2 separate regions of the Homo sapiens genome follow, and region 1 is linked to region 2. Evidence: fine-mapped expression QTL. Tissue or cell type: whole blood. Region 2 holds a variant in brackets; the other region holds the start of a gene. All regions are shown on one strand. Distances are from middle to middle.

What was found. PIP is the estimated chance that this variant, and not a neighbour inherited with it, causes the effect.
Region 1: ARHGEF12 starts here. The variant in region 2 is fine-mapped to the expression of ARHGEF12 in whole blood (TOPMed, PIP above 0.99).

What each region holds. Positions count from the first base shown.
Region 1 is chr11:120,333,970-120,339,116 of GRCh38, reverse strand. ARHGEF12 (Rho guanine nucleotide exchange factor 12) reads right to left here and starts at 2,704. Exons shown (of 41, transcript NM_015313.3): 1 at 1,842-2,704. The coding sequence starts at 1,873. RefSeq lists a silencer at 2,248-3,117.
Region 2 is chr11:119,944,539-119,949,685 of GRCh38, reverse strand. It overlaps LOC105369526 (a long non-coding RNA gene), which reads right to left. Exons shown (of 8, transcript XR_948083.3): 4 at 4,631-4,878; 5 at 3,554-3,917; 6 at 3,153-3,271; 7 at 148-326. Among named protein-coding and RNA genes, the nearest start is that of LINC02744, 48 kb to the left of the region's middle. The variant T/G (reference allele first, on the strand shown) is at 2,339.

The DNA.
Region 1 (5,147 bases), 390 kb before region 2:
ACCAGTTCAAAAAACATTAATGCCCAAACCAATTTGCAGATTAATCTTACAATATTCATTTTGTAATCTCTTGTGCCTGCACAGTGCCTGGCCAAAAAAAAAAAAAAAAAAGAAAAAGAAAAGAAACAGGCTTTCAGTAATTTCATATTTATTGAATGTTTATATGCCATCTACGTTATAAAGAGGATACAAATTCCAAGATTCTATTTCCAAGATAACGAGAAGACAAGGAAAATCCCTGAGAAGCAATGCTGAAGAAAAACCATTACTTGAGGGCTTTTCACTCACTTGTGTGTGGAATGAGTCCGTTCTGTTTCCATAAATTAAACACCTCAGCATCGCAATGAAAACCAACATTACATTAGTTCCTAGCAAGACTTTTGTTTACAGGCTCAACAGAAAGAGCGAGAATTGAATGAAGCAGGAAAACAATTATCCCCACACCCGTAAAAGTGATTTCTCAGAAGCAAAACACCCTGAAAGGAAAAAAATGGGGATAACCAGAAGAAAGTAAGATAAGCATTGTCAATACTTATCTTAAGTGTATTCTTGGAAAAGTTAAAAATTATTTCATTGAAAATGAAAACCCACTTTGAAAAATACACAAAGAGTAAATATAAATACTTTAAATATTTAACAGACTCTTTTAAGTGAACATTCATGTGATGCTGGAAAGCATCAACAGGAAGAGGAAGTTCTGTTTCTGGAGTAGCTGTTATGGTATGATAATGGAATTTGGCCCTTTTAAAATCAACAAATGAGTCTTACAATTGGGTAAAACTCTTATTAGGAAATTAAGACTACTTTGTGCAGAAGCACTATTGTTGCACTTTTCATCAAAGAGCTTTGGCCCTCTAATTCAGTTACTTGATCTATTTTTTCACGGTGTAATAATTCGAAGACTGACTTAAAAATAAAGCAAGCTGACAAATTTGGGACTAGCATGCAGTGTCATAATTAAATTGAGAATGAAATGTGGTCAAGGAATCAATATGCTTTTTATCCCTTACCCTATAAACAAGAGTAACTTAGGATAAGCAAACTGCACTTCAACCACACATGGTCTAGCTCAATTCGCCACCCACCACCATGCAACACTGGTAGGTGCTATAAAGGACAGACACAGAACTCAACAAATTCAGCTGCGCGCTTACACTATGCTTACGGCTTATATCTCTTAAACGCCAAGTGTTTCTGGAAGACGAAATATTTAAATACAAGAATTAAAAGCAAACCCCATGATTTACCCTCATTTCTTCAGCTCCTGGACATTGCTTCCAGCAAGAACCTGTGATTTACTGGTAATGTCAACATTCTGGAAAGTTATTAGATAATAATTAAACACCGTGCAGGTCAACATCTGAAAGAGATCAAGTTCCCAGATCACCATGCAGTAGGCTCAACATTAAGTTCACAGGTAGAAATTCCTAAAATGTAATTGTCTTGAGAATCTACTGCAGGACACGGCTAAAGCTGATAAATAATACACCAATACCGAGCCGACTTCAGGCACCGACCTTCACCTAAAATGACCTTCTCCTCTGATTTCCAGACGAGTACACAATCCTAATGCACACTACAGGCGGAAAACCACAATCATGGTTTTGCCTCCCCCTTCTCTGAGAATCGGAAGGGAAGTTTCTCTCCGGAAAAATTACATTTCCAAAAGCCAATCAACTGGATAACTCGGCAGCAACCCCAGGCTAACTGCACAGCTCCGAAACAACCCTCTTTCCTCTGCCTGTCAACTTCGCTGGCCAAAGGCAATCTGCAATCACCGACTCCCCTGCTAGGTCGGGCCCGATTCCGGGAGGCCGAACGAAGGAGGAATTCATACCAACCTGTCGGTGATAGTAGACTGTGTGCCACTCATTGGGGCCCTTGGCGAGAGGTCCTCCTTTTATCCAACTTGCATTTTACAGTAACACCTCCTCCCCACCCCCAGTGCTCTGGGATCAGGCCCAACTCCGTCAGGGACACAAAAGTCCAACTCAAAACTCCATTCAGTCATCTAGACCATCCGACTGTAAGGGGTCAACGGATGCGGCTTGGAGCAAAACAAGTTATCTCCCAAAACGAACTGAGAAAGCCAGGGAGCGAGTCAGTCCAGAGTGAGTCGAGCTAGAGAGAAATCCTCCAGAAGGCACAAGGATAAACTTCCTCAGAGAGGGAAATCCGCGCGCAGTGGGAAGGGGACCCGGGACTCCCGCCGGGGCTGGGGCGGGATCAGCTCACGGACGGGTGTCGGCTCCTCCTCCGGAGTCTCGGGGCCTCGAACTCCCCGCCGCGGCAAGGGCCGGGGCCCTCCCTCCCGGCTCTCTATCTGGGGCTGCCGGCTGCTCGTGGCCGCAGCGTTGGCCGCGTCTCCGGCCGTCCCGCGCCGGGCTCGCGCGATTCCATGTCCCGGGCCCGGGGCTCCTTCTGTGCTCGCCGCCCTCACCAGGCTCCCGGTGCTGGGACGAGCCGCTGGCGCCGGCGGAGAGGTCCCGCGGCCCGAGGTGACAGGGACCCGGGTCTCTCAGCGCCGCGGACTGCTCCCCATCCCTTTGAGGCCCGGACTCTTCCGCAATCGCCAGAGGCGGCGGCTCCTCCCCGACGCTCCCCGCGAGGGGCGGGAGATGCCCGTCCGGCCCGGCCTGGAAGCCCTGGTCCGGGAGGCGGAGGCGGCGGCGTCTCCCGGCGCAGGGCCGGCTCGCCGGGTTCTGGAGGCCCTCGCGGGCGCGCGCGCAGACAGCGGAGGAGGCCGGCGGCCGTGGGGGCCGCGCAACCGCGGGCGCGCGCGCGGGTTCCGGTTCCGGTTCTGGTTTCCCGGCCCTGGCCGCGTCCGGCGCGAGCTCGCGCTTCCCGTCCCCCGCCGACTTTATGGCCCCCTCCCCTCTGACTTCGGGAAGCCGCCTCACCCGGGATCCCTCCGCCGCTCAGGGCCGCGCTCTCGCCCTTGAACGGACGCCTCCGCCGGAGCCCGGTTTGGGAGAGCGGCAAAGTAGTCCTACGGGGCAGAGGGAGGTGGGACCCGTGCAGCCCCGGGAGGCCCACCCACCTCCCGCGGCGCCTGGGCCCCTGAGTGCCGAGACATGCCCCTTCGAGTCCAGTTTGTACTAAGTCGACTTTCACCAGAGACCGCCCGAGAGCGCCCCCCAGATCCCGAGGACATCGTGCCGGGAGGCTCTTTGAAAATTACCAGCCCCCCTTGTCCTGGAAACTTTTATTACTTAAGGGAATGTATTATCTCTCCTGTCTTCTGGCTGCACGCGTTCTGCCGGTTCCCGGCCGGCGCCCCTCGCTGCCTCCGCAGGCCCCGCTCACCTGGGCACCTGCCGGCTCCGGGGGGAGAGCGCTGCATGAGCCGGAGGCGCAGGGCTGCGGGAGAGCAGCTGGGGACTGCAGCCAGGGTTTCTCGGTATAAATATTACTTTTAGGCTGTTTCTGCCTTGGCAAAATGAAATGTGTTATTTGCCAAATTGATAAAGCATGGTGCTTTCCATGGCGACTTAACAAGCGTGTTGTGGAAAGAACTGGGAGAAGAAAATGAAGTATATTTATCCAGTAAATAGCATTACGGTTCTCTCTGAAGGATTCCCAAACGGTTTTTCGGTTTTTTCCCCTACTGGGTAGAGAGCTTTAGATACCCATCTAGTTTTATGATTGAATAATTCAGTATTTTGGCAATTTAGGTACCACATGTAATACAGTTCTTCAGTTCTGCCTGCAAACATCCAAAGTGGCTATTCCCTTTATCCAACTATTTTCAGACTTTTGAGCTTAAACCTATGTTGGTGACAAGGGATTTCAGCCATTTTGTGGAATCCAAGTAGCAAATCAAATCTAATAAACAGTGGATGTGGAGAGAGGAAACAATTACCTCTTAACAATGCTGTTGCAAAAAGTCATTCCGCAACAGTTCATGAAAGGATCATTATCCCCGAATAGAGGCATGAGCTCACGCTGACGTTAGTTAGAACGGGGGGGAAAAAAAGGAAAAGATAAACAGAGACCAGAGACGACTCTTTATTGCTCGATTTTTTAGGTTCAAGGCACAGCCAACTAATTTTGTAATGTTTATTTTTGGAAAGAATAGAAGCAGATTAGCCAAGGCACTTCCCTAATGATGAGACCAGGACACATTGCCACCTGCTGGTGTATTCTAGCATGACAATTCTACCCTGAAGACTCTTAAATTGAGTGTTTACATGCAACCGGAAGGAATCCCATTCATATATATATATATATATATATATATATATATATATATACACACACACACACATATACACATATACACACATATATACATATATACACATATATATACATATATATACACATATATATACACACATATATACATATATATACTGACCAAAATGCAAACCTTATCCCCAAACTTAATAAATCTTTCTTAAAAGTACTAAATATCTTATTTTCCCCTATCCTAATAATGTTACAGTGTAAGTATAAAATTAATTGAACCCAATGACTCATCAAATCATGCATTTTGGAGTTCCTCTCTTCCCTTAATACTTGAGGGAAGCCTCAATACTTAAGCTTCAGGAATAAAACAAACTGGGAAAGTTTCCTAATTCACCTTCTCTTCCTTGCATACAAAACCTCTTGGCAAGCTGCTTTCAAGATCTTTCCAAACTTAAACAGACCCACGGTTCTAGCTGTGAGCAAAGAAGGCATTTTGCTGTGGGAAAGCTTCAGAAGATGGTAAGCAAAAGATTGAATTAAGCCAGTGGTTATTCATTCCAGAACTAATTTTTTTAAATGATGAAAATCTCTATAGTCACCTACAAAGCATTAATGATTTAAAAAAAAAAAAAACTGAAAGCCTCTTTAAAGCTGCCGATAGCTCAACTGTTCTAAAGGCTGTAACTATAGGATGCCTTCAGAAAGTCAAGCCAGTCTGGGTAGAACACACTCCTCAGGGTCCGTAGTACTTTACTTAGAAAAATGACATTGATGACCCAATCCACTGGGAAAACCTTTGAGGAGGTTTTCCAATGGGGATGATTCTAAACCACATTCTCATCCTCTTGTCCATTCTTTCAACATGCTTACTAAGTATCTACTATGCATCCCAGACTGTTTTAGGCATTGGTAGTACAGTCCTCAAGACAGGGCCTCCAGCTGTCTTCAGATGATGT
Region 2 (5,147 bases):
TATGGTTTGAAATAAGTGAGCCATCGACTAGGACATGGAAATTGCTTTTGTCATACAGAAAGTTTCATAGCAATGGTACTTGTGTTAGCAGGATTTGACTTGTAATACTGAGCACTTATAGGACCTTTGTGATTCCCAAGCACTTACCATACATTTGTGAAATGCACAGTGTAAGAAAAGTCAGTGTCAAAGCAAGTCACAAGACTGGCCTAGATTCAAGGGGAGGGGAAATAAATTTCACCTCCTGATGGAAAAGAGTGGATATGTACAGGGCTGGAGGATTACTGGTGATGATCTCTGCAGATAATCCATCACACTGAGGCTACCTAGGAAAAAGGGTTGGATTTGAAGTCAGCTGACCTGACTTCGAGTCCCATTTCCCCACCTCCCTAGCTGAGAGATCTTGGGCAAGTAGTGAGGCCTCTGAGTTGTGGCTCCCTGCTCTATGGAAGTCTCTTCACTGAATTTTTATCAGTGCGAATTTTGAGGGATCATGCATGGCAAAGCACTTTGCCAATCGTGGCCTAACTACCTAGATGGGGAAGGGATTGCAGTGGCTTCTACTCTCTCCCCATACCACTGCTTGTTGCCTTAGCTAATCAGGAGTCTTCTCTCCTTCTGGATCTTAAAATAGATTTTTTTTTATTTAAAATGTCTTAATTCCTCTTGGATTCCCATGATTTCCAGTTTTGCTTTCTGGCTCTGTTTTCCAGTGTTTCACGAGGATGCACCCCAGTCTCTCCCCATGGACTGCCATGAACAGTTGCACAATATTTTTCTGCATCAAAGCACCTGGCCTTGGGGGAACTAGGGGGCTGAACTTTGGCTGTGTTCTGCCCACCAAGCCATGCACCCTGGGGCAGAGCTGCATCTACCTAAAGGGGTCACTTGTCCTTGTGCCTACAAAAGCTCTGTGTGGACTGGAAGTGACCATACCTGGTGCCAGCCCTAATGGGGCTTGAGAGGCCACCAGTGGGGGCCCATCAGCCATCAGCACACAGACCCTCCCTGCTCCATGCTTCTTGACTGTCCAGGGCTGCATATGGTAGAGTCTTTTCTGTTTGACTCTGGGGTTCAGGGGTCCCCCCTGTTTACCCAGTGGCCTGCTTGACTTCTCTTCCCAGCCCTCTCAACCCCTCACCCGGCTGCTGCCTGTCACCCTCCATCCACCATGCTGCAGAAATTATTTTTATAAACTCCTCCTTGACTGAAGTGCCACTTTAAAGAATTTAAAACACCACTGCTGTCTCCTAATGAGAAGGAGAAGAGACGCAGAGGCACTAAATTCTCTAGAGCTTTCCTGTAGCGTTCTGATGTCGCCATCTCTGGAAATATTTCTCCTGCCACAACACACAACATATTGGCGGGGGAGCATCACTACGTATTTTAGAACCATCCCCTTGAGCACTTTGCAACCTTCCAGGATTTCTAAACTACACACTGTTGACACCTCAGACTTCAAAAGCTGAGGGTAGGCATGCACATTGGGACAGGATGCTGGGCTCTGATTTTAACCAGTGTTTGCTAGGTGCCCCCACGCACCCACCCCTCGGCTGGGCCCCGGGGAGGGAAGTAAAACCACACAGGACAAGAACATTGTTTCTGTCTCATCCCATCCTAGATGGGGTCCCTGATGTCCTGGTCTTTGGAAGGATGTCAGCTGCTCAGGTGCACAATGAGGGGAGTTCAACCTTGACTTCTGGAGCCAGCCGGACCCAGGCACCCTTAGCACCCTGCAGTTGCAACTCTACCATTTCCTATGCCAACCTGCCCTCATTGATCTAAGTTATTCTTTGTTTTCTGGACCTAATCCCCTGACTGCCTACTATTTGAAACCAGCCTCCCTGGCTGCACCCAACATCCCTCATCCTCATCCTCCCCTGGGGCTGCTTCTGCAGAGCCACCAGGCCATTGCCTGCTGAGCTGCAAGTATTATTTGCCACCTCAAACATCCACCACATGGCAGCCTCGCCACCTATGGAGCTCCTCCTTCCTCTCCAGATGCCCTGGGCATGGCAGTGGGGCTTCCAGATGCCCTGTCCCACCTTTGGAGCCAGACTCTGTAACTGGGTCCTTCCCTGCACCATACTGCCTGTCCCAGCTTCCTTCTCCTCCCCACCAGCCTGTGTGGCGGATGCCCCATCCAGTTCACCTCCTAAAATGCTCTTTCATCTTTTACTTCCTCTGCATCCACACCAAGCCTGACTTCACCCCGCCAACATCTATTGCTTGGATGAGAAAATAGCCCCTAATGCATCTCCCTGCTTCCAGCTCTGCCCTCTTGAATCCATTCTTCATAATGAAGCCAGAGGAGGTTTTCTAAAGCCACAGGCTGTCA[T/G]GCCCTTCACCCTCTGGAACATTTCATGGGTGCCTTTCCACAGCCTTCATGCCACTCAGGACCAGCCCTGCCCAACTGATGCTTTATGACCCCTCCCTGCACCACACCAGGAGACTGAGTAGGTGCCGTTCCCCCGCCTGGTGACCTCTTTCATCTCCAGAATCTGAGTACTGAGTTCAAATCCTAATGCAGCTCATTACTAATGGTGTGAGCTTATCATTAGGGGAGGTTAATCCGTACCTGTTTCACCAGAAGAGGTTAGTTGAGATGTGATGTCTGAAGTTAATAATAATAGTAACAATTATGATAATAATGATGGCTAATATTTAGATTGTGTTGATTAAATAGACAAAATATTTATCCTCTCAAAGCCTCAGTTTTTCATCTGTAGAATAGGGATAGTGGGGTTGATTTGAGGCTTAAATGAAATAATGCTTATAAAGCCTTTACTATGTGCCTGGCATTGGCAAGTGTTCTTTAAAAGTGAGCTGTTGTTATCATTGTGCTGATCCAAATACCTGGAATTCTAGTCTGGCTCTCACCACTGTCCCACTGCCTTGACCCTTGACCCTTTCCTTACCTCACCTGCCTGGATGACTCTCATTCATCTTTTAGATGTCACTTCCACCTGGAAGTCCTCCTGGACTCCTTCTGTCTATGTTAGGCACCACTTCCCTGGATCCCTGCTCTGAGTGCTGTTGTAGAATGCACCTCTCACACTGAATCTTGATGGCAGTTTGCTGGTCTACTTGCCCTGCAGCCTGTAAGCCCTTGAGAGCGGGGTCTACATCTTCCTGGCGTGGTCATCTCATACCTGGGGTAACACCTGGTACTCAGCAGGTGAGAAGGAAACATTCAGTGCAGGAACCAGTGAAGGCCAGGTGGCCTCCGCACACTTGCTCCTTAGGGCAGGATCTTCTCTGTCCTTGAGGACTTCAAGGCAAGAATAATAAGCATCAAACAATGGTGAATGGTACAAGATGGTGCATGCATGCTTTACAGAATTAACAGGACAGACAATCAGCCTGCCTGCTCAGAGAAGGGAGCTATCACTGTTGGCATATTGAATATTGTTTGAAATAAATGGGCCACCGACCAGGATGTGGAAATTGCTTTTGTCATACAGAAAGTTTCATTGCAATGGTACTTGTGTTAGCAGGATGTGACTTGTAATACTGAATACTTATAGGACCTTTGTGATTCCCAAGCACTTACCATACATTTGTGAAATGCACAGTATAAAAAAATTCCAATTGTTAGGAGATTGGCAGCTCCAATTTCCTGCAGCAGTTCTTCAATTTTTCCTTGATCACAGTCCTCCACTGTGGCCTGGTGTTTCTCCTTCATGGCTCCTCTGAAGTGGGCATGGGTCTCTGGCCAGGAAGAACAGTGCCTCCTGGGACACAGGCATGCCCACCTGCCCTGGAGCCATGACTCTGTCTTTTCTCAGGACTGGAAAGGCTGGTGCACCTCAACATAGACTCTGGGGAAAGGTACCATTTTCTGTCTGGAAGCTCCTCCTCTGCTTGCTAGGGGATAGCACCATGTTTCAAAGCCAGGCCACTTCTATCTCTTTCTCCTGTAGAAGGGAACATGACAGACATGTTTCAGCATTCTTGCTGGGGACTTCAGGACACCCAAAGGAAACCACGTCATACTCCAGATGATCTGTCCCTGTGCACCCAACCCCAAAATGTACCATCTCTGTTTGGTGTGATCTGCCATGTGCTGCAGCCCAGTAGCCAGGGCTTCTTGTGGCTGTAGCCACCTGCCTAGCTCAGTTCCCATCTCTTGCCACAGAGAGCAGCCCCTCCTTCCCCACAGCCTGTATTCCACCCATCATAGGACAGTGCCTAGTGAATAGCAAGCACCATCTAAGCATTAGCTGTCATCATCGTCATCATTATCTTCTTCTTCTTCTTCAAAATCCAGATCTAGGCCAGGTGTGGTGGCTCACGCCTGTAATCCCAGCACTTTCGGAGGCCAAGGCAGGCAGATCATGAGGTCAGGAGTTCGAGACCAGCCTGACCAACATGGTGAAACCCTGTCTCTACTAAAAATACAAAAATTAGCTGGGCGTGGTGGCATATGCCTGTAATCCCAGCTACTCAGGAGGCTGAGGCAGGAGAATTGCTTGAACCCAGGAGGCAGAGGTTGCAGTGAACTGAGGATCGTGCCACTGGACTCCAGCCTGGGCGAGAGAGTGAGACTCCATCTCAAAAAGCAAACAAACAAACAAACCCCCCAAAATCCAGATCTAAGTTTACCTCTTAGGTTTCTGGTTAACTGTACCTAATGATAATGGATTTTTCTCATTGGAATTTTCAGTTTACAAAGCACTTTCACATCCATTCTCTTACTGCAGGCTCGCAGCACATCTGGGAAGTTGATCAGCTGCGGCAGGGCGTGCCACCTCCATTTTTCTGATGGTGAAGAATTTCTGAAAGGTCTAGAGCTTTGGCTCATGGTGTGTGGGTCAGAGTCAGGAACTGTGCTGATCCCAGGCTCAAAGCCTGGACTCCTGTGATGCACACATACTTCTTAGATCATGCAAGAAAGAAATTTTATCTCAGGACCCAGTACACACACTCACCCCACAAAAAGCTGAAACAAAGTTTTATAACATAATACTTTCCTTACTGCATGCAATGTGCACTGCCTTCCTCCTACTCCCCTCCCTTCTCCTCCACTCCTCTCCTGTCCCCTCCCCTCCCTTCCTCTCTCCTCCTCTCCCCTCCCCTCCCCTCTCAGCCCCTCTGCTCCCTTCCTCTTCCCTCCACTCCCCTCCCCTCCTTCTATTCTCTCCCCG